Linked DNA regions of Homo sapiens. Changing the gene in region 1 together with any one later gene gives a genetic interaction. Each region holds a gene or a part of one and is shown in the gene's direction. Other genes may lie near its edges.

What was found.
Region 2: changes in PAFAH1B1 (region 1) and MZT1 together harm fitness more than expected from each alone (negative genetic interaction), as found in Homo sapiens cells (one large-scale study listed by BioGRID).
Region 3: changes in PAFAH1B1 (region 1) and VPS72 together harm fitness more than expected from each alone (negative genetic interaction), as found in Homo sapiens cells (one large-scale study listed by BioGRID).
Region 4: changes in PAFAH1B1 (region 1) and KIF11 together harm fitness less than expected from each alone (positive genetic interaction), as found in Homo sapiens cells (one large-scale study listed by BioGRID).
Region 5: changes in PAFAH1B1 (region 1) and TCOF1 together harm fitness more than expected from each alone (negative genetic interaction), as found in Homo sapiens cells (one large-scale study listed by BioGRID).
Region 6: changes in PAFAH1B1 (region 1) and PSMD12 together harm fitness less than expected from each alone (positive genetic interaction), as found in Homo sapiens cells (one large-scale study listed by BioGRID).
Region 7: changes in PAFAH1B1 (region 1) and FH together harm fitness more than expected from each alone (negative genetic interaction), as found in Homo sapiens cells (one large-scale study listed by BioGRID).

Annotation. Positions count from the first base shown.
Region 1 is NC_000017.11:2,666,654-2,670,153, forward strand, and holds part of PAFAH1B1 (platelet-activating factor acetylhydrolase IB subunit beta), read left to right. Parts: intron 1-338; coding exon 339-545; intron 546-3,500. UniProt on the Homo sapiens protein: Regulatory subunit (beta subunit) of the cytosolic type I platelet-activating factor (PAF) acetylhydrolase (PAF-AH (I)), an enzyme that catalyzes the hydrolyze of the acetyl group at the sn-2 position of PAF and its analogs and participates in PAF inactivation.
Region 2 is NC_000013.11:72,721,130-72,724,629, reverse strand, and holds part of MZT1 (mitotic-spindle organizing protein 1), read left to right. Parts: intron 1-3,500. UniProt on the Homo sapiens protein: Required for the recruitment and the assembly of the gamma-tubulin ring complex (gTuRC) at the centrosome.
Region 3 is NC_000001.11:151,183,698-151,187,197, reverse strand, and holds part of VPS72 (vacuolar protein sorting-associated protein 72 homolog), read left to right. Parts: intron 1-1,247; coding exon 1,248-1,400; intron 1,401-1,577; coding exon 1,578-1,692; intron 1,693-2,704; coding exon 2,705-2,881; intron 2,882-3,500. UniProt on the Homo sapiens protein: Deposition-and-exchange histone chaperone specific for H2AZ1, specifically chaperones H2AZ1 and deposits it into nucleosomes.
Region 4 is NC_000010.11:92,631,130-92,634,629, forward strand, and holds part of KIF11 (kinesin-like protein KIF11), read left to right. Parts: intron 1-1,356; coding exon 1,357-1,564; intron 1,565-2,493; coding exon 2,494-2,666; intron 2,667-3,500. UniProt on the Homo sapiens protein: Motor protein required for establishing a bipolar spindle and thus contributing to chromosome congression during mitosis. Required in non-mitotic cells for transport of secretory proteins from the Golgi complex to the cell surface.
Region 5 is NC_000005.10:150,395,697-150,398,244, forward strand, and holds part of TCOF1 (treacle protein), read left to right. Parts: intron 1-585; coding exon 586-1,146; intron 1,147-2,548.
Region 6 is NC_000017.11:67,342,578-67,346,077, reverse strand, and holds part of PSMD12 (26S proteasome non-ATPase regulatory subunit 12), read left to right. Parts: intron 1-220; coding exon 221-333; intron 334-1,265; coding exon of another isoform or gene 1,266-1,297; coding exon 1,298-1,472; intron 1,473-3,500. UniProt on the Homo sapiens protein: Component of the 26S proteasome, a multiprotein complex involved in the ATP-dependent degradation of ubiquitinated proteins.
Region 7 is NC_000001.11:241,509,756-241,513,255, reverse strand, and holds part of FH (fumarate hydratase, mitochondrial), read left to right. Parts: intron 1-1,112; coding exon 1,113-1,289; intron 1,290-3,500. UniProt on the Homo sapiens protein: Catalyzes the reversible stereospecific interconversion of fumarate to L-malate. Experiments in other species have demonstrated that specific isoforms of this protein act in defined pathways and favor one direction over the other.

The DNA of each region.
Region 1 (3,500 bases):
AAGAGTAGCAGCCTTAGAGGGACCAAGACAAATTCACTGCCCTTCTCTAATTAGTAGAGGACTCTGTCACCAGATACAAATCGAAATTTTTCTTTTTGTTAAAGAGTTAAGGCAATTGTACTGAATTTTTCTCAATTTTTAGTTTCCTCACATGACTTAGATTTTGATGCTGTACAAAATAAATAATTTTCATTTAAATTTGACAAATGCTTTGGAGATTACTGAAATTTTTTCAAGTATCCTACATACATAGTTGCAAAATAAAGGCAGTTTTTTAAAATGTCACATGCTATTTTTATTGAAATCTATCTGTACGTAACTACATGTTCTTTTTCAAGGTTATGGAATTAGAATCAAAGCTAAATGAAGCAAAAGAAGAATTTACGTCAGGTGGACCTCTTGGTCAGAAACGAGACCCAAAAGAATGGATTCCCCGTCCGCCAGAAAAATATGCATTGAGTGGTCACAGGAGTCCAGTCACTCGAGTCATTTTCCATCCTGTGTTCAGTGTTATGGTCTCTGCTTCAGAGGATGCTACAATTAAGGTAATTTTTTGTTAAAAGCAGACTTAACGGGAGGCTGAAGCAGGAGAATGGCATGAACCCGGGAGGCGGAGTTTGCAGTGAGCCGAGATTGCACCACTGCACTCCAGCCTGGGCGACAGAGCCACACTCTGTCTCAAAAAAAAAAAGCAGACTTAATAGGGTGAAGAAAATTAAAAGATCCTGAAAATGAGGGCCTATGAAGAGGGACAGGAGGTACTCTGAAACGTGTGATTTGGTTCTAAATCTTAAAAGACAGAATTGGAATAAAATATCATTGTGGCTCCTGAGAGGCATGCTGCCAGGTAAGTTTGATGGTGAATTTGAGAAAGTCGGGTGTCACTAACTGAGTTGATGTCAGTACATCACCTTGTGCTTGAACAATTTTTGTTCTTGGAGAATGAAAAGTGTGTGTCTTACCTTTAAACGGAGGTTATGTGTGAAATACTGATTGACAAAACTAGTAATTGATAGGGTGAATCTATACTGCAAAAGAATTCAGTAGAGGATTCATTTAAATTGGGCTTTCCTTGATGTATTTAAAATTGGCTTTCCAGGAGTGTGGGAATATACAAGCTTTTCATTTTATAAATTACGTATTTCATTAAAAAATTTTTTTCACAGTAAAAATATTATTACCTTTTAATGTTGTGCTTTTTTAATTAGGAAAAGAGTTGTTTTTAAGTTGCCTTTGTTCCGGACACAATAAAATGACCGTTGTATAAACCACCTACAGAAAGATAAGATAGTTGCAATATAGGTAGATTTAGGTAGATGCCTCTATCCTAAGGGTTATTTCAAAGTAAGTTACAGATATTAAGTTTCATTTACAAAAGTATAACCAATCGGCCGGGCACGGTGGCTCACGCCTGTAATCCCAGCACTTTGGGAGGCCGAGGCGGGTGGATTGCCTGAGCTCAGGAGTTCAAGACCAGCCTGAGCAACACGGAGAAACCCCATCTCTACTAAAATACAAAAAAATTAGCTGGGCATGGCAGCGTGCGCCTGTAGTCCCAGCTACTTGGAAGGCTGAGGCAGGAAATTCGCTTGAACCCAGGAGACAGGTTGCAGTTAGCCAAGATCGCTCCACTGCACTCCAGCCTGGGCGACAGAGCGAGACTGTCTCAAAAAGGTAGTTACAACTAACCAAATAGTAACGACGGTTTGGCCTTACTACTAACAGCAGAAGAAATAAACACTGAAATTATGGGCCGGGTGTGGTAGCTCATGCCTATAGTCCTAGGACTTTGGGAGGCCAAGGTGGGAGGACTGCTTGAGCTCAGGAGTTAGAGAGCAGCCTGGGCAACATAGCAAGACCTCGTCTCTACTTAAAATTAGCCAGGTATGGTGGTGCATGCCTGTAGTCCTAGCTACTCAGGAGGCTGAGATGGGAGGATCACATGAGCCTGGGAGTTGGAGGCTGCAGTGAGCTATGATTGAGCCAGTGTACTCCAGCCTGGGCGAAGAGTGAGACCCTGTCTTAAAAACAAAAAAATTGGACTGGGCACGGTAGCTCATGCCTGTAATCCCAGCACTTTGGGAGGCCAAGGTGGGTGGATCATGAGGTCAGGAGATCGAGACCATCCTGGCTAACATGGTGAAACCCCGTCTCTACTAAAAAATACAAAAAATTAGCCGGGAGTGATGGCGGGCTCCTGTAGTCCCAGCTACTCGGGAGGCTGAGTCAGGAGAATGGCGTGAACCCGGGAGGCGGAGCTTGCAGTGAGCCAAGATCGCGCCACTGCACTCCAGCCTGGGCGACAAGAGTGAGACACACATACATATATATGTGTGTCAAATTGTCAAGGTATTTTACCTATTAAATAAGAATTCCCAGTGATGATAAGATTTTGATAAAGTAGTCATTCTCATTACATATGATACAGTCTTACGGGATATCAATTTAATAGAGTATATGAAGGCTTTAAAAGTTTATACTTTTTGACCCACTAATTGTTTCTCCCCATTACTGTCTGACCTAGGTATTATAAAATGAGGACAGAATTTTTTTATATTAAAAAATGTTCACTATAATGTTTTCTATAATAGTGATTTAGCCAGCAATTAGAATTTTTTTTTTTTTTTTGAGATGGAGTTTCACTCTTGTTACCCAGGCTGGAGTGCAGTGGTATGATCTTGGCTCACTGCAGCCTCCGCCTCCCAGGTTCAAGCAATTCTGCCTCAGCCTCCCGAGTAGCCGGGAGTACAGGCGCCCACCACTGTGCCTGGCTAATTTTTTGTGTTTTTTAGTAGAGACGGGGTTTCACCATATTAGCCAGGATAGTCTCGAACTGACCTCGTGGTCCGCCCGCCTTGGCCTTCCTAAGTGCTGGGATTACAGGCGTGAGCCACTGCGCCCGGCCATATTTCATTTTTTAACTCAAAATGACATATGCTCTTGTTCATTTGCTATTCGTGAACAGTTAACATCTTCTGAAATCTTTCCTTGGCCCTTTAGATGTCTGAGTTCTGATGGTCTAGTAGGATCGAGTATTCATCCATTGTTCCTCAAATATTCTACATACAAATGCCTGCTATAGCCCTCTGAAGCTCCTTCCCTTCCCCTTCCCTTTCCCCTTTCTTTCCCTTTCCTTTCCATCTCTTTCTCTTTCTTTCCTCTTATTTCTTCCCCTTAAGTTTCCTTATTTACATGTCATTCCTGCTCTGAGACAGGGAGCGGACTATGTCTTGTGACTTTATATACCTTATCACTATTACAGTTGGTTATGTGATAGAAACCTTATAAATGTGGTTCTAGAGATAGATTTTAATAATTGCAACATTAGTTTTCCCTGTAGAAAAAAAGACCAATTTATACATGAGATACAATATTTCTAAAATAGTTATCCTTTGTTACTTGTTCGGTTAGTTACTCAGTAAGGTGCCAGACTGGCCTGCTGAGTGCAAATGTGAAACAAGAAAGGAGTGATGGAGTTGGTGTTAACCAATTTTCTGTTC
Region 2 (3,500 bases), on another chromosome or scaffold:
GAGGCGAAGGTTGTCGTGAGCTGAGATTGCGCCACTGCACTGCAGACTGGGTGACAGAGCTAGACTCCATCTCAAAAAAAAAAAAAAAAACACGTTATAGAGAAAGGAGTTAAGAGAATCTATGGTATATAGATTCCATTTGACTAGCACTGCAAGGCAGTACCAGCGAAACAGTCCATGCTACCACCATCAATCCAGTTGCACATTTGAGAAAGAAATCTAGAAGTCAGTCTTGCTTTCTCACCTCCTCTGCCTCCTGTTCTTCACTAAGCCCTTTCAATTCTTGACTCATTTCAGGTTGGCTAAATATCTCCTGTTCATCCTACCCACCAGTCTTTTATCAAAATTGTGATATAACTGGACTTTTTAAAGATTCATTTGATACTCAGCCAAAAAGTCCTTAAAATGCAAGTTTGATTTTTTTATGTTCCTATTTTATATCATCCAGTAGCTTTCCACAGTTCTAAGATCTTCACTAGGACTTACCTCATATTTTATACCCATTCACCCCGTTAATTACATTGCCTTCACAATAGCAGTTCAGGTCTGAATTTACCAAGTTCCCTCTAGTGTAGGGACCATCACACAAGCTGTTTTCTTTGCTCTCAACCATCACCCTTCCTCCTGCCTCTGTATTAGTCTGGTTGATTTCTACTCACTTTTGATGTCTAAGTGTAATTGTCACTTCTTCAGACAAGTCTTTGCTAAACACTGTGTCCTTCCAAACTTGGTAAGATGCCCTTGTAATTTGTTTCAGAAGTATTCCACTCTTTATTTATTTTACTTATATCTGGAATCAGTTATTACTTTAATATCTATCTCTCCTCCTGGACTAATATCTGTGAGGAGTGGGACCATATATACCTTGTTCATAACTGTATTTGCAGCAGTAGCATAATAGGCACAAAATACATATAGTTAGAGGTTGATTATCTCTCATCCAAAAACCTTGGGACCATGTTTTGGATTTCAGATTTTTTTTTTTGTAATATTTTCACATACATAATGAGATATCTTGGGGATGGGACCCAAGTCCAAACACAGAATTCTTGTATGTTTTATATATACCTTATACACATAGCCTGAAGGTAATTTTGGTTTTTTCCCTCAGGGATGCTGAATGAACTGTGTATTGTGCACCTGCATTTTGACTTTGATCCATTATATGAGGTGTGGAATTTTCCACTACGGTGTTATGTCAGTACTTAATAAGTTTTGGATTTTGCGGCATTTCACATTTCAGATTTTGGAATTAGGAGTGTTCAACCTGTACTGATCATATGGTAGGCACTAAAGAAATAGTTTTTGATTACAGGCGATTTGTGAAAATAGGAAGTAAAAATAGGTGTCCATTTGAAAAGAAGGCTTAAAGAAGAAACCACAAATGAGATGGACTAAGAAAACAGCATTGAGTTATATGAAGGGAGGATAAAAGGCAGAGGAGAAAAGCAAGAACAAAGGCATGAAGTCAGGAATAAGCATAGCCTTTATACGTGGGGGGGTCTACCATGAAGAGAACAAACTGGAAACTGGAGAGAGAAGGGAGAGAATCAACTGAAAAACTGTTAGAAGCATCATAGAATTCATCAAGGTGACTGGTGATTAAAAAGTTTAATATGTAGTGTTCCAGTATACTGATGGTAACCACTTAGAATGTACAAGGGCTAAGTAGAATCCATTTGTGAAGACAGTCAAAAATAAAGTGAAGATTCAATATGGTAGATTGAGCACTTGCTGAAACTCTAAGCATATAAAAAAATAGGAAATAGTAAGAAAATATAATTATCAGGATAGACCTGTTCAAAAGCAAGAAGGGAAGTCTCCATTGATTAGGAAGAGAGAGGTTTCCCCCCAAAAGAAAGGAGCAGATGGGAACCACAGCAGGGGATTGTCGGGAATAGAATCTGACAAAGCATGCTACCCTGCCTCACTGAAGTTGGGAGTCAGAAATGTGCCATTTGTCACAGCCAGAGATTGAGAAGCACCATCCATGTGTTTTTTGGATCTGGACCAAAAATACTACAAGGCCTGATCTAGAGGCCTAAAGCTAGGGTACGGCTTCCTATCTTAGAATGGGCCACCAGTCCAGGACACCTAAAATAAATCTATGGAAGATGAGTTTTCAGCCAAGAATGACAAAGCACCTAAGGTAGATGAAAAACATGAGCAACTAACATGGAAAAGGAAAAAGAGGGAAAGTGGTAGTAACAGGGAACTCTTTTTTATTGAGCCCTACCGTATGCCAAGCACCATTCCAAAGGACTGCAAGGCAGTGTCAGCAAAACAAATGGATACCATTCTAAGTGTATCCTTTAATTCTCACACTAATCCTTTAAAACAGGTACTCTTATTATCCTCACTTTCGAGAATGGTGAAATAAGGCACAGAGAGAGTAACTTGCCTACTAAATACTACAGCTAGAATTTGAACACAGGTAGTCTGGCTCTAGAGATCACACTCCTAACCACTGTCTTTTGCTGCTTGCTTATACTCCAAGAAATAGAGATAATAGAGCAATCTCAAATACAGTTTAAGAATATAGCCTTAAATAGACGAAGGCAGGAACAACAGCTGTGAAATTTGTCACTATAAATAAGCATTTAGTTATAAAACAAGTGTTTATGGTGAGAAATTAGAAATTAGAAATCTTGAAAGCTACTGAAATAAATTTGAAATAAATTCAGCAGATAATATGAATAACAGGCTGGATACAGCTGAAGAGCAAAGTATCAGTAAATTGGAATATCAAAACTGAAGAAATGAAAATGGGAAGAGCTGTCATCTTCCAGCCAAGATGGAGTAACAGAGATTAGATTTATGCTTCTACTTGAAACAACCAAGAAAACTCAGGTAAAGCATACAGAACAATGGTTTTCAAGACACTGGACATCAGGCATCAGAGTACAGTGATCCCTTAGAGACAGGAAACAAGCAAAGTGATTTCTTGGGTTGCCCCAGCTCACTGCCTTCAGAGAGTTCCAGGCCTCAGTATAGCAGGGAGAACCCAGTGGACACACTGAAGTGAGTAGGAGGAGTTTAGAAGACCTGGGAGACCAAGGCAGGTAGAGTTTGAATAACAGTACCTGAGAGGGGAGAACTGCACAGAAAGAATGCTGGAGATCTGTAGAAGTGTCCCCCTTAAGTATTCAGAGCATTGATTAGCAGATGTGTGAGGAAAGTACTCAGAAAGCTGGGAGGGAACCATCTAGAAGGATTAGAGTGAACCGTGCACCGTGCTTACACAGGGCTGAGGATAGTGCCTGTAACTACCAGCCAGAATGGAAATCTTTGTAATTCATAAGACATTGGATACAGTACTCAGAATTCTTACCTCAATCATAAGGGGAATAATTAGCCCTATCCTAAACAGGGCTCTGGTCCTGCCTAACAGATCTAAGAAGTAATATCCGAAAGGATCAAACCATTTCCAGATAACGGTATCTCATTATAAAGCTCAAGAATTAGAAATACAAAACTATCCGGTACCTAAGTAAAATTCT
Region 3 (3,500 bases), on another chromosome or scaffold:
GGCTGCCATTCTAGCCCTAACCAGTTCACCTGAGGTCTAGGCTGTACTTCACGTTCTCTACTCCAGGCCATCTAACTGCCCCCAGAGCTTTCTGAAATACCCATTGTACATACCATTACCCCTCCCCTAAATCTTCAGTGGCCCTCCATTATCCATAGTAGCAGTACTCAGCTGTTTTTCTGTCCCAACACGCCTGAGGAATGACACATATTTCTCTCAGTAACTTTAGTTTACCTCAACAATGATTATCAATGGTAGGGAAAATAAGGAGATGGAGGGGATTGAGAATCACTGGCCTGCAGGTTAAAAGCGTGTTTATTAGTGTGACATTTAAGTTTCTCCATAAATGGAATGCAACCTTCTTTTCAAATCATACAGTCCTACAGTGCAATCAGTGTTGGAAGGAGGCAGTGCTGGAGCCAAATGCAGTTGGCTAACAAGGTTTCTTGACAGAGAAAAGTTTTACTTAGATCTAAATCCTTATTCCATAAACATGCTATACACATTACCATTTCTGTGCCTTTGTTTCTGCTATTTCATCTGCCCATGATTCCTTCCTCCCTCTTGGCTGTCTAAATACTAACAGTGTTTTCAATCATAGTTTAAGTCCTCTTCATCCTTTTTTTTTTTTTTCTTTTTGAGACTGTGTCTCGCCCTGTCGCCCAGGCTGGAGTGCAGTGGCACTATCTCAGCTCACTGCAACCTATGCCTCCTGGGTTCAAGCAGTTCTCCTGCCTCAACCTCCCAAGTAGCTGGGACTACAGGTGTGCGTCACCATGCCCAGCTAATTTTTGTATTTTTAGTAGAGACAGAGTTTCACCATGTTGGCCAGGCTGGTCTCGAACTCCTGGCCTCAAGTGATCTGCCCACCTCGGCCTCCCAAAGTGCTGGGATTACAGGCGTGAGCCACCAAGCCTGTTCGAGATCCACATCTCAAAAAAAAAAAAGTAAGATTATGTCCTCCCCTTTACTGTAAGCCCCTGAAGGTAGAGACCAAACCATATCCTTTTGTTCCCCAGTACTTAACAGTGTGTTGCAGGTAAAGGGCTATCAATTAATGTTGGAAGGAGGTGGTACTGGAGCCAAAGGCCATTAGCTAGAAAGTTTTCTTGCCTGAGGAAAATGAAGGGCTGGATTAGGAAGGAGAGTAGGGCAGCCCTTATCAAGAAAGTCGAGAGATTCTGTTCCTCCTGAAGGGGCATTAAGGCTTCCATTGCCAGCCAACCCTTATCTCCCTGTGTCCTTAGGAATCCGGAGATGATGAGTATCAAGGGGACCAGTCAGACACAGAGGACGAAGTGGACTCTGACTTTGACATTGATGAAGGGGATGAACCATCCAGTGATGGAGAAGCAGAAGAGCCAAGAAGGAAGCGCCGAGTAGTCACCAAGGCCTATAAGGTACAGGGGGAGTCCTAGTTGTCTTGGATTTCCTCAATTCCTATTCTCTCTTTCATCAGGTCCCAGTACTCCCTATGCCACTTCCATTTCTGGCAATGCTAGTTTTCTCTCATTGAGATCCTCATATTTCTCCTGACTTCTTCTGTTCCCCAGTATCTGATTCCAATCTGTCCTCAGGAACCTCTCAAGAGCTTAAGGCCTCGAAAGGTCAACACCCCGGCTGGTAGCTCTCAGAAGGCGCGAGAAGAGAAGGCACTACTGCCATTAGAACTACAAGATGACGGCTCTGACAGTGAGTAGGGATGTTAGGGTCAATTGGCAAAATTGGAATATAATAATAAAGTATCATATCAGTGTTAAATTTACTGATGTTGCTGGGTGCGGTGGCTCACTCCTAGAATCCCAGCACTTTGGGAGGCCTAGGCGGGTAGATCACCTGAGGTCAGGAGTTCGATACCAGCCTGGCCAACATGGTGAAATTCCGTCTCTACTAAAAATACAAAAATTAACCAGGTGTGGTGGTGGGCCCCTGTAATCCCAGCTACTTGGGAGGCTGAGGCAGGAGAATTGCTTGAACCTGGGAGGTGGAGGTTACACCATTGCACTCCAGCCTGGGCAACAAGAGCAAAACTCTGTCACCAGAAAAAAGTAATAAAAAGAAGAAAAAATTTACTGATGTTGATAACTTACTATGGGTAGGAAAATCCTCATTCTTAGGAAATACACACTGAAATATTTAGGGATAAAGGCCATGATGTGTACAACTTTAGTTACCTAATTTAGATCATTCAGAAAAAAACCACACATAACAAAATGCAAAAGGGCCAAAATATTACCAATAGGTGATGGGGTAAAAGATACATGAGTATTCCTTGTACTATTCTTGCAACTTCGTAGGTTTGAAATTATTTCAGGCCAGGCACGGTTGCTCATGCCTGTAATCCCAGCATTTTGGGAGGCCGAGGCAGGCAGATCACGAGGTCAGTAGTTCAAGACCATCCTGGCTAACATGATGAAACCCCATCTCTACTAAAAATACAAAAAATTAGCTGGATGTGGTGGCATGCACCTGTACTCCCAGCTACTCGGGAGTCTGAGGCAGGAGAATTGTTTGAACCCAGGAAGCAGAGGTTGGAGTGAGCCGAGATCGTGCCACTGTACTCCAGCCTGGGCGACAGAGCGAGATTCCATCTCAAAAAAAAAAAAAGAAAAAAAAATTATTTCCAAGTACAACATTTCAAAATAAATAAATAAAATATGTGGACATGAATTCAAAGATTTCTTCTTATCTCACTCTCTTCCAGGTCGGAAGTCTATGCGTCAGTCTACAGCTGAGCATACACGACAAACGTTCCTTCGGGTACAGGAGAGGCAGGGCCAGTCAAGACGGCGAAAGGGGCCCCACTGTGAGCGGCCACTAACCCAGGAGGAACTGCTCCGGGAGGCCAAGATCACAGAAGAGCTTAATTTACGGTCACTGGGTAAGTCTGTGGTTTCAGAAAAAGTGAGTAGAGGGGCTGAGGGGCATGAGAAAAACCATGAGACCTGGAGGACCAAAGAACTGGAGAGATGGAAATTTGGGATGATGGAATCAGAAGGAAGAAATGGCGGAGAGTAGGTAATTAGGTGCAAGAGTCTAGGCAGTTATGAGCACTCTGAAGAACAAGCTAAGGTACTTTGGTGTAAAATAAGAGTTGTATAGAACTGAGGTCAAATCCTCGTTCTGCTATTCATTTGCTTTAAGTCTGTAGGTAAATTACTTATTCACATTTTGCTTTTCTTGTTTATAAAATGGGGTATATACCTAATGACTCAGGAAATTTAGGCAGGAGGATCACTTGAGGCCAGGAGTTCATAACCAGCCTGGACAACATAGTGAAACCCCATCTCTTAAAAAAAAAAAAAGCAGGGGGTGATAATGTTGACTTTAATGATAATCATGAGAACGTGAAGTCAGCAGATTAGTCCTTCATGAGATAAATTGCTTTAAAAATCTCTTCATTTTATGGTATTGCTTTAAAAATCTCTTCAGTTTGGGCCAAGCGCAGTGGCTCATACCTGTAATCCCGGCACTTTGGGAGGCCAAGGTGGGTGGATCAC
Region 4 (3,500 bases), on another chromosome or scaffold:
AAAAAAATACAAAAATTAGCCAGGCGTGGTGGCACATGCCTATAATCCCATCTACTCAGGAGGCTGAGGCAAGAGAATCACTTGAACCCAGGAGGCAGAGGTTGCAGTGAACCGAGATCATGCCACTGCACTCCAGCCTGGGTAACAGAGCAAGACTCTGTTTCAGAAAAAAAAAAAAAAAGAATTTAGTATGTTCTGATGATGAAAGATGTTGAAAGTATTTAATTTTTTTTTTTTTTTTTTGAGACGGAGTCTCGCTCTGTCGCCCAGGCCGGACTGCGGACTGCAGTGGCGCAATCTCGGCTCACTGCAAGCTCCGCTTCCCGGGTTCACGCCATTCTCCTGCCTCAGCCTCCCGAGTAGCTGGGACTACAGGCGCCCGCCACCGCGCCCGGCTAATTTTTTGTATTTTTAGTAGAGACGGGGTTTCACCTTGTTAGCCAGGATGGTCTCGATCTCCTGACCTCATGATCCACCCACCTCGGCCTCCCAAAGTGCTGGGATTACAGGCGTGAGCCACCGCGCCCGGCCTTTAATTTTTTATTAGTTGTACTTTTTTTTTTTGAGACAGACTCTTGCTTTGTAGCCCAGGCTGGAGTGCAGTGGCATCATCTCAGTTCACTGTAACCTTTGCCTCCCGGGTTCAAGCGATTCTCCCGCCTCAGCCTCCCAAGTAGCTGGGATTACAAGCGCCTGCCACCACACCCAGCTAATTTTGTATTTTTAGTAGAGACTGGGTTTCACCATGTTGGCCAGGCTGGTCTCAAACTCCTGACCTCAGGTGATCCACCTGCCTAGGCCTCCCAGAGCGTTGGGATTACAGGTGTAAGCCACCACGTCCGGCCATTAGGTGTACTTCTGAGGAAATAGTAGAACATAGAAGGAAAAAAATTTCTGAGGAAGCATAATTATTGCAATAACTGAAAAAATCAGTTTTCCTTGCTTGTGTAGATGGCTACAGGAAGGGAAATAAACATTACTGGGCATCTGGATAAATTAGCATGAGTTAAAGCATTTCTTCTGATACAATGTCTAAAATTGACTTTTTTTTTTTGAGACAGAGTCTCTCTCTGTCACCCCGGCTGGAGTGGCAGTGGCACAATCTCTGGCTCACTGCAACCTCCACCTCCCAGGTTCAAGCAATTCTCCTGCCTCAGCCTCTTGAGTAGCTGGAACTACAAGTATGTACCACCACACCCAGCTAATTTTTGTATTTTTAGTAGAGACGGGGTTTCACCATGTTGGCCAGGCTGGAAAATTTACTAGTTCTTATCAAGATAAATCCTTGTGTAGATACTTTCATCAGATTCCTTTCACCGTATCCATTTTGTCTAACACTTATTTTTAAAAATATAGCTGCTTAACACAGTTGAAGAAACTACAAAAGATGTATCTGGTCTCCATTCCAAACTGGATCGTAAGAAGGCAGTTGACCAACACAATGCAGAAGCTCAGGATATTTTTGGCAAAAACCTGAATAGTCTGTTTAATAATATGGAAGAATTAATTAAGGATGGCAGCTCAAAGCAAAAGGCCATGCTAGAAGTACATAAGACCTTATTTGGTAAGTTCAGGCTGTTCTGTTCTAGTCTTGATGTGTTAAGTGTAATGTTGATTTCAAAACTGATAATTTTGTGAAACATAGATGACGGTGTCACCAATACTCTCTACCATGCACAAACTATTTGTTCAGGGTGAAGATTAATGCTTTTATTGTCTTTGAATTAAAACAAATCTTTTTTCCCTCCCCACCCTCCCTTCTGTTTTCTATAAAATGTTACATTTATTAAGTAACTAAGTATATAAACGTTAGAAGTAGAAGTCCTCTTTTTCCCTGACTCCGGCTCCTGACCCTGGGTCATTGACCATAGGTGTTATTGTTAAATTTCTTGGGCCTTTTTCTGGAAATTTTTTGTGCATAAACATTCTGCAACTTTTTTTGGGGGGGGCATATATATCTTGATGGTTTGCTATATTGTCAGAATATGTTTGTGTCTCATTGTTTTTAACTATTATCTCCCTTTAGAAAAAAGTATGTTTATTTAGTGTGAAATACTATCCTCATTATGGAAAATTTGGACATTCAGAAATATAAAAATTTAAAAAATCATCTAGACTCTAGTCTCACTAAGCCAAGCACTATACTTTTTGGTATTGATTTCCAGTTTTTTTTTTCTTCTGTAAACTTACCATAATTCTGTATATTATTTTTAGTTAGAGATTAATTGTAGAATATTCTAATTCTTTGTGTACTATGAATTATAGTTATGGGTCTGATACACTTACAAATATGTTAAGGGCTTACAGAGCACTATAGAAAATTGTAATGTATATTTAAATATTTCCTTGCTTTGTAGTGAGCCAGTTCTTTTAAGCTCGTTATTACAAATTCTACAACAAGGGTATACTTTTGTCAACTTCTTTGAAATGGTTTGAACGGTATTTAATATATTTATGTCAAAGTTTACATCTTTCTGTTTTTGTTTGTTATAGGTAATCTGCTGTCTTCCAGTGTCTCTGCATTAGATACCATTACTACAGTAGCACTTGGATCTCTCACATCTATTCCAGAAAATGTGTCTACTCATGTTTCTCAGATTTTTAATATGATACTAAAAGAACAATCATTAGCAGCAGAAAGTAAAACTGTACTACAGGAATTGATTGTTAGTACATCCTTTAAAATATTTTTGAAGGGTTGCATTTGATAAGTATTTGATAAAATATTTTGAAGGGTTACATTTGATAAGTCTTTATAAACAATGTTAACTGCTATTCTTTCTTCCTGAGCTTTACTAGACACAGTCATAGACACGTCACTGTGAGAGACTACATATATATATATTTTGTTTTGTTTTGTTTTGTTTGTTTGTTTTGAGATGGAGTCTCGCTCTGTCGTCCAGGAGTGCAGTGGCGTGATCTCGGCTCACTGCAAGCTCTACCTCCCGGGTTCATGCCATTCTCCTGCCTTAGCCTCCCGAGTAGCTGGGACTACAGGCGCCCACCACCACACCCGGCTAATTTTTTGTATTTTTAGTAGAGATGGGGTTTCACCGTGTTAGCCAGGATGGTCTTGATCTCCTGACCTTGTGATCCACCCGCCTCGGCCTCCCAAAGTGCTGGGATTACAGGCATGAGCCACCGTGCCCAGCCAGCCTCTCCTTTTCTTTATTTGTATTTATTTATTTTTTTCAGCCTCTCCTTTTCTCGGCTCACTGCAACCTCTGCCTCCTGGGTTCAAGCAGTTCTCTTGCCTCAGCCTCCCGGGTAGATGGAATTATAGGCATGTGCCACCACGCCTGGCTAATTTTCGTATTTTTTTTTAGTAGAGATGGTGTTTTACCATGTTGGTCAGGCTGGTCTCAAGCTCCTAACCTCAAGCAATCCACCCACCTCGGCCTCCCAAAGCGCTGGGATTACAGGCGTGAGCCACCGTGCCCGGCCGAGAGTACGTTTATATTTTTAAAGACAGATCTCTCCACTGTTTATTCTCTCCCAGA
Region 5 (2,548 bases), on another chromosome or scaffold:
CTTGCCTGGACCCCCTGACCAGGAAGGGCCGAGTGTGGGTAATCATCAGTTGAATGTCTGCATGGCCCCCACTTTTATTATAAATCTACAATGTATCATAGGAAGCCTTACTGTTCATCCACCCCTCACGTTATAGACAGGGAAACCAAGGCCCTGGGAGGAGATGGGTCCTGGCCAGAATCACACTGAAAGTGGGTGGGAAAGTCAGACCTAGAACCCAGGTCTCCTTCCTCCCAGCTCCAGACTCCATCTCCCTCCTTTCTGAATTTTCATTCCATTGATAGATTTCAGGCCCTTTCATTAACATTCTGGAGTCATTTTCTGTCCCCCACCCTAACTGGAGTTTTTAGTATAAAGAGACAGGGAAAAGCTGTAAGTTAGAAATGAAGTCAGGGTGTGAAATTGGTGGAAAGGTGTGAGCTTAGGAGACCAGCTGGGGCAGAGTGACCGCCAAGCCTTGCTCTCCCCATCTGTGCCATTGTAAGAAAAGATGGAGTCACTCCCTGCACCCTCTTCGCTCTTAGGTACCATAAGATCTGTCCCCCAACTCTCCCAGATCTGTGACCCCACATTCTCTCTCCATAGGTGGAAAAGAGGCTGCTTCAGGCACCACACCTCAGAAGTCCCGGAAGCCCAAGAAAGGGGCTGGGAACCCCCAAGCCTCAACCCTGGCGCTGCAAAGCAACATCACCCAGTGCCTCCTGGGCCAACCCTGGCCCCTGAATGAGGCCCAGGTGCAGGCCTCAGTGGTGAAGGTCCTGACTGAGCTGCTGGAACAGGAAAGAAAGAAGGTGGTGGACACCACCAAGGAGAGCAGCAGGAAGGGCTGGGAGAGCCGCAAGCGGAAGCTATCGGGAGACCAGCCAGCTGCCAGGACCCCCAGGAGCAAGAAGAAGAAGAAGCTGGGGGCCGGGGAAGGTGGGGAGGCCTCTGTTTCCCCAGAAAAGACCTCCACGACTTCCAAGGGGAAAGCAAAGAGAGACAAAGCAAGTGGTGATGTCAAGGAGAAGAAAGGGAAGGGGTCTCTTGGCTCCCAAGGGGCCAAGGACGAGCCAGAAGAGGAGCTTCAGAAGGGGATGGGGACGGTTGAAGGTGGAGATCAAAGCAACCCAAAGAGCAAGAAGGAGAAGAAGAAATCCGACAAGAGTGAGTGACCGCTTCTCCCAGCCCACCCCAAGGGCTGCTGGGCACCCCACGGGGGCGGGAGGGACCCTCAGCCAGCACCTGGTCTCATTCCTCCCATGTAGAAAAGAGAGGCTGAGACCAGCCTGGCCAACATGGCAAAACCCCGTCTCTACTAAAAATACAAAAAATTAGCTGGATGTGGTGGCGGGCACCTGTAATCTCAGCTACATGGGAGGCTGAGGCAGGAGAATTGTTTGAACCCGGGAGGCAGAGCTTGCAGTGAGCCGAGATCACGCATTGCACTCCAGCCTGGGTGACAGAGCAAGACTGTCAAAAAAAAAAAAAAAAAAAAAGGCTGAGAAGTGGTTTGTCCAGAGTCACAGGGGCAGCTTGTGGCAAAGCCCGAACTCGATTCCAGAGCACTTGAGTCAGCACTGCCAGGAATGCTCCAGAAGGACGAGGAGTCATGTCCTCTTTCCCCAAGCCCAGTGCAGCAGATCTTGGAGGAACCTGCTTCTCCAGCCAGCTCCTGGGTGCAGAATGGACCAGGAACCAGACTGTCAGAATCCTCATCCCAAACCCCATCTTGTCTCTAGACCTCAGTTTTCCCTCCATAGTAACACTGGCCCTTTACTGAGTGCTGTTCTAGACTCCGCATGCAGCAGGACCTCATTTAGGTAGAAATGAGACTCAGCAGGTAGAAAACTGCGGCTCGGGCTCGGAGAAGTAGAGATGCTGTTCAGGGCCACAGAGTTTTGCTAGGTGGAGCCAGAGTCAAACCTAGGCAGCACTCTCGAGCATCGCCCTGGACGGTGGGTTGCCAGTGACGCCCGAAGAGCCAGCTCGTTCTGGAACAAAAGTCGGGCACCCTCAGAGCAGGACTTGCAGCCCCTTGGTGCTCAGAACTGTGCTAGATTTCCATTTACAGTAGGGATAGATAGTGTCCATTTAAAATAAATTTGCGGGAGTTTTAAAAAGTGAGTTGAGCTAAAGAAAAATGGTAGTCATCCAGGTGGTCCATGGATGGGACAGAAATCATGAGCTGGCCTCCAGGGGGCAGGTGAACTGGCCCTGCTGGGTGATCACCACAGCTGCCAGCCTGTTTTATTTTTATTTTTTGAGACAGGGTCTTGCTCTGTCACCCAGGCTGGAGTTCAGTGTCAGGAACGCAGCTCACTGCAGGCTCAGCCTCCCAAGCTCAAGCGATCCTCTTGCTTCAGCCCCCCAAATAGCTGGGACCACAGGCGTGCACCACCATCCCCAGCTAATTTTTGTATTTTTTGTAGAGACAGGTCTCACTATGTTGCCCAAGCTGGTCTTGAACTCCTGGGCTTAAGCAATCCACCCGCCTCAGCCTCCCAAAGTGCTGGGATTGCAGGAATGAACCTCCACGCCCCGCCCTGCTGGCCTGTTGTGATGGCTT
Region 6 (3,500 bases), about 65 Mb from region 1:
ATGGGGTTTCACTGTGTTAGCCAGGATAGCCTCGATCTGACCTCAGGAGATCTGCCCACCTTGGCCTCCCAAAGTGCTGGGATTACAGACGTGAGCCACTGCGCCCGGCCAAGACTTTAAAATTTGAAATGGATATATAGTTATTCCATGATTGTTCAGTTTTTGTCAAAGTTTCCATTATGTCCAGTCTTGCATATAACTTGTTGTACAACTCTTTTAGGCTCTGAAGAGTGTTGTACTCTATGTTATCCTGGCTCCTTTTGACAATGAACAGTCAGATTTGGTTCACCGAATAAGTGGTGACAAGAAGTTAGAAGAAATTCCCAAATACAAGTAAGTACTTTTGAAATTAGCATGATATATCTCAGTCGAAACACCATTTTGAAAGAAAATTGGCTAACCTAAGTGTATACTTCTGTGTATACTTCTTTTTTTGAGATGGAGTTTTACTATTGTTGCCCACACTGGAGTGTAATGGTGTAATCTCAGCTCACTGCAACTTCTGCCTCCTGGGTTCAAGTGATTCTTCTGCCTCAACCTTCCGAGTAGCCGGGATTACAGGCACCCGCTACCATGCCGAGCTAATTTTTGTATTTTTAGTAGAGACAGGGTTTCACCATGTTGGCCAGGCTGGTCTCGAATTCCTGACCCCAGGTGATCCGCCCACCTCGGCCACCCAAAGTGCTGGGATTACAGGCTTGAGCCACTGCGCCTGGCCTAAGTGTGTACTTCTTAATTGGTTACTGATAGCGTATACTAGAGAATAAAACTAGAGAGGATAACGTGGTGGAATTTTTTTTTAGCATTGCATCAGCAGTAAATGAGATTATAACATACTTTCTTCTAAATTGCTTATCAAGTGGAAGTTTCATATCAGGTCTACATTTGCAGCTTTTGATTAATTATTTGATAGAGTTTCATCATTAGTAGTTTAGAGCTTTGTGATTTTCAGAAATACATACTTGTGAAAATCTATTATATAAAATAGACTTGCTTCATCATAAACACAACAGGCTCTTATTTCTGTTTGTTTCATGAGTACATTTACATTCAGTTATTTCAGAAATTGACAGTGCAGAAGAGAGCAGAGTGTTAAGTGGGAGAATGCTGTATTCTGAACTACTGTGGGAAAAATGGTAATAAAGTTGGTAAAATACACAATAATCATATGGTGTCTCATTCTACTAAATAAAATTTAACGAAAACAGTCTTTGCTGAATTTTTTGAACTTTGCTATTATATTAGTTAATACTTAATTTTTACAGATTTGGAATATTAAGATGTATACAATTTTCAGGGATCTTTTAAAGCTTTTTACCACAATGGAGTTGATGCGTTGGTCCACACTTGTTGAGGACTATGGAATGGAATTAAGAAAAGGTTCCCTTGAGAGTCCTGCAACGGATGTTTTTGGTTCTACAGAGGAAGGTGAAAAAAGGTGGAAAGACTTGAAGAACAGAGTTGTTGAACATGTAAGAATCTGTCATAGAGATGACAATTTTTATTTTAACCTTTAGTGAATTTACTTTTTAGAATTAAATTTTGGCAATTTTGAGCATAAACTATTTCATTTGTCACATTTGATAACCAAATGTTCATTTAGGATGTTATGTGTTTAATTCTTCACTTAGGATATTTTTTTTCTATGCCCACTGTAGTAGTGATGCACATTTGGTGTTCAGATGTTTACTCTGCATTTCCCAAAGCATATTGGAATGTATCTCACTCATCTTGGGTTTTTTCCCTATTTTTGGCTTTTCAGAAAAGATAGCTATATTTTAGCTTGCTTCATTGTGAGAGAACCTCTTAAGAATCCAAAATTTATAGTATATAAACCAGACAGAATTTCCGAAGAATGGGGGCAGGAGGGTGTTTCTCTCTTAATATTCACTAGTCTTGGAAGCAGGTAACATGTCTTAAACCTGAACTTTGATCTTTTTAGTATCACTGCCGTTATGTTGTATTATGTTGCCATTCACTCCTTCATGTAACAAACTTTATTGTGAGCCTTCTGTGTGCCAGACACTTTACAAAGCACCAGGGCACACAGGAGAATAAGACAGTACCCTCCCTAGGCCGGGCGTGGTGGCTCACACCTGTGATCCCAGCACTTTGGGAGGCTGAGGTGGGCAGATCACCTGAGGTCAGGAGTTCGAGACAAGCCTGGCCAACATGGTGAAACCCCATCTCCACTAAAAATACAAAAATTAGCCGGGCGTGGTGGCGCACACCTGTAATCCCAGCTACTCAGGAAGCTGAGGCAGGAGAACTGCTTGAACCCAGGAGGCAGAGGTTTCAGTGAACGGAGATCACACCAATGCACTCCAGCCTGGGTGACAGAGCAAGACGCCGTCTCAAAAAAAACAGACATTACCCATTACTCTACCTTTAATAAGATTAAAAATTATAGGGAAAGACGTACTTATAAATAAAAAGAGTATCAGATATTGTAGTACAAGTATCTAGAGAGCAGAGGGAGGCTTATGGGAAACTTTGGTAGTTCTACATGGAGAAATGATCAGGTCGGATGAATCGATGATTGAGGTGAGGTTTGTAAGAGGAGTGTGAGGTTATCGGGCAGACAGGAACAAGGGAGGGCAGCCTGCGCACCAAGTCCCTCTGAGAGTGAGTGTGGAGAATGCATTTGGAGAGATAGGAGACTAGAGAAGACTAGTAAGGTGAGAGATACATGGATTTTAAATAAGGCAGTAGCCAACGGATTAAAGACTGCTTGGAATGGGATTGTTTTAAGGAAGGAAATCAATAGAATGCAGCCATTGATTAGACTTAAAGCATGAAGGAAAAGGTTAGATTTAAAGGATAAAAGCACAGAGAAGAATGCTTCTCGTGCTTTCTGATGTGTTGGTGTTGCCATCAGCCCTGATAGAGATGGGAGAAGATGTAGCTTCTTCAAAGATTGAGTTCATTTTTCTCCCCACTGTTCCCCCACCTTTTTTTGAGTGCTATTGTTAATAATACTACCAATAAGAACAGTAAAGGGGAGTCTCTGTGTCTTAACTTCAGCACCATCGCCAGTTGAAATTAGGAAATTTAATTTGAAGCTATCTTTAAGTCATTGGAATAATGGTAAAGTGATGAGTATTTGAAATGATGTCTAATCTTTTTTTTTTTTTTTTTGAAAGAGAGTCAGTGTAGCTCTGTCATCCAGACTGGAGTACAGTGGCACAGTCATAGCACACTGTAACCTTGAATTCTCGGGTTCAAAGAATTCTCCCCCCTCAGCTTCCTAGGTAGCTAGGACTATAGGCATGCACCACCATATTCAGCTAATTTTTAAATTTTTTGTGGGGATGGGGTCTTGCTGTGTTCCCAGGCTGGTCTTGGTCTCCTGGCCTCAAACAGTCTTCTTGCCTCAGCCTCCCAAAGTGCTGGGATTACAGGTGTGAGTCCCTGCACCCGATCGATCTCCAATCATTTTTTAGATTTTAGCCTTTAAAACATTTGTGTTATAATTAGAAAATCTTAACTTTAGATTCTTG
Region 7 (3,500 bases), on another chromosome or scaffold:
TTGAGAATGTAATTTTACTAATATGCTAATAACATTGTCTTAAAGAAGCAATCAGAGGTAACAGAACTGTATATATAGTGTTGTTAATTACAGCACTATTTATAATAATGAAAACAAATTAGACAATGCGTAACTATAACAGCTACTTATATAAATTATATTTATATGGTAAATTATAGAAAATTACTTTTTTGAAGATTGGCATGCACAAAGCCTAGCCTATGAGAAATAGGGAGGAAAGTTTGCAAAAATATATGTATTTTACGATCCTAATTTTGTTTAGGAAAAAATGAACAGAAAGTGTGTGTTTCTCATATACACACACACACACACACACACACACACCCTCATTGCATGAGATAGAGACTGGGGATGCCAACATGCTAATAGTCATAATTACTGAGCAATAGAACTATAGTGACTGTTTTACTTTTCTCAGTTCTCAAAATTTTCTACACTAATCACATATTTTTATATAACCAGAAAAAAGTTTTATTTTAAAGTGGACCAGTTGTTCAAGGTAATAGATTTCTCAAGTGCATTCTGATTTTTTAAGCTAAAATCATTCCAGAAGATTGTTAACCACCCATATTTTACAAAGCACACCATCCAAAAACTAACACATAAGCTGGATGTATAAAAATACAACAAAAATAGGGGCAAATCTGGGCAGCGTTTATTTCTACATTTGGTGATTACTGCTCATTGGACATCTGTGCAATGAAGTAGCTATTAGTGAACTCACATTTTCAAGTTACTAGCTCATTAGCATGCTGACTCTGGCAATAACATCTGTTGGATATTCCTGCTGAGCACCAGCAACAAATATATCTAGAGACTAAACGTATTTGCCAGCCTTAACAGGTGGTCCTCTGTTAGAGGAGGCTGTGGGAGAGAGATAAGAAAGATACCTTTGATTCCCTTTTCATTTGAAACCAGTGAATTGTCATACCATTCACTATAGATAATATTTCACTTTTTAAAGTATCTGTGGTTGGAGCAAGTGATGCTTCAGAAGCTTAGATATGTGGGTCAACTGTATTCAAACTCTGTGGCATAATCAGCATTATTATTTCCTTTTTTAAAATACATTTTTAACATTTTTTCTGCAGGTAGCTGAAGGTAAATTAAATGATCATTTTCCTCTCGTGGTATGGCAGACTGGATCAGGAACTCAGACAAATATGAATGTAAATGAAGTCATTAGCAATAGAGCAATTGAAATGTTAGGAGGTGAACTTGGCAGCAAGATACCTGTGCATCCCAACGATCATGTTAATAAAAGCCAGGTCAGTATGTGAGCTTTGCTGTTTTTTGGTTATAAATTGAAAAGCATACCTGAGATTGTTCTTGTAAAACAAGCATTCACTTTTTGACAAGAAGTGTTCATTATTTAATGGATAAGGCTTCTTATGGTTCTTATTTCTTGAAGGAATCTTGGTTTTATGTTTCAATCCTTATAAAAATTATTTTTAGGACACCTGAATTTAGTGTATGTATTTTTTTATTGTTTAAAACTCTATTTTGAAATAATTTTAGATTTATAAGAGAATTGCAAAGATAGTTCAAATAGTTTCTATATCCCTTCACTCAGCTTCCCTTATTGTTAACATCTTATGTAACCATGGTACATTTATCAAAACTAAGAAATTAACATAGATACAGTACTCTTAGCTAAACAACAGACTTTAAAAAAAAAACAAAAAACTGAGGCTTTCCTCAGTTTTTCCACTCATGTTCTTTTTCAGGATCCAATCAATGCTATACATTACATTTAGTCACATGTCCCCTTGGTTTCTTCTAATCTGTGACAGTTTCTTGGTCTTTTGCGATTGTCTCAGTCCTTTGGGGCTGCAGTAATAAAATACAATAGACTGACTGGCTTATAAACAATAGAAGAAGTTAATTTGTCACAGTTCTGGCAGCTAGAAGTCCGAGGTCAGGCCACTGGCCAATTCATTGGCTTGGTGGGGGCCCACTTTTTGGTTTGTAGATGGCCATCTTTTCTGTGTCCTCACATGGTAGAAGGGACAAGGGAGCTCTCTGGGGTCTCTTCGTAAGGACACTAATTCCGTTCATGAGAGCTTTGCCCTATGAACTAATCACCTTGCAAAGGCCGCATCTCCTAATACTATTACCCTAGGGGTTAGGATTTCACATAGCAGTGACCTTGACACTTTGAAAGCAGTGGTCAGGTATTTTGTAGAATGTCCCTCAATTCTGGTGTGTCTGACGTTTTCTCATTAGATTGAGACTTTTGAATTTTTGAGAAAACTATCACAGAAATAAAGGGCCCTTCTCATTGCATCATATCAGGGGTTCATGATAGCAACATGACTTTTACTGGTGATGTTAACCTTAATCACTTGGTTAAGCTGGTACTTGCCAGGTTTCTCCATGGTAAAATTATAATTTTTCCTCTTCTATACCCTGTTCATTAGAAATAGGTCACTAAACCCTGCCTGCATTCCAGGCACTGTATTTCAGTTTCTAGAGGGAGGAGTATCAAAAAGTTTTTGGGCTTACATTAAAATCACTGTAGTAATTAATAGCGCGCTACCTTGAGGCTAGGCAAACATCTTCTTTTTCCTTAAACTTTTTCCTACTATTTTTAGCATTCATCAGGGAATCTTATCTACAGCAATTACTTCCATGGTGTTTTAATAGTGATTTTCAGTTTTCTTTATTCATTCTACACTTGTTAGTTGAATTTTTCTGCAAGGAAGATTTGTTCTCTCTGTCCCATTTATTTATTTATTCAGTTATTTGGGTATATCAGTATGGACTGATGGTTATTTATTTTATTCTTCAGGTTATGATCCCATACTTTTGTTTATATTGTTGCTTAAATTCTTTCAGCTCTGGGAACCCAATTCATTTGGCTCTTGTGTCCTTTTAGGCATGCCACCATCCTTTTACTTTTCTGAAGTGTGTTCCGACTTCCTGGTACTTTAAGATGCTCCAAGCTCATTGTCTTGTATTGTTTCTGCCCCAGCCCTAGAAACAGCCATTTTTCAAGGAACTGTTGGAGAATTCTTATTGGAAAATGATATTTAGAAACTGAGATCTGGGTGCTAAGTATAATTTAATATATTTTTAAGTAGTAAGGAAGAAGTGTTTTTAATACACGTTCATTGTATAAGGGATTTTCCCAATCTAATACTTGCCTTTATGAATTTATGTTCTATATATACTGAAGTCTGAAGTCTGCCTCAGAAAGGTAGAGTTATAGATGAAACGTGATTGGCTACATGTTGATAATTATGTAAACTATTTGAATTCAGGTGACAGGTACATAAGTGTTTATTATACCATTCATCCTACTTCTTTCGTAAGTACTTTATATTTTGCATAGTAAACGTCAAAATATATAAATAATGTATCTTTTTAAATGACAGTATACTTTTATATATATCTGTGTGTGTGCATGCGTGTGTGTGTGTGTGTGTGTGTGTGTGTGTGTGTGTGTGTGTGTGTTTAGAGATTGTGCTTCACTCTGT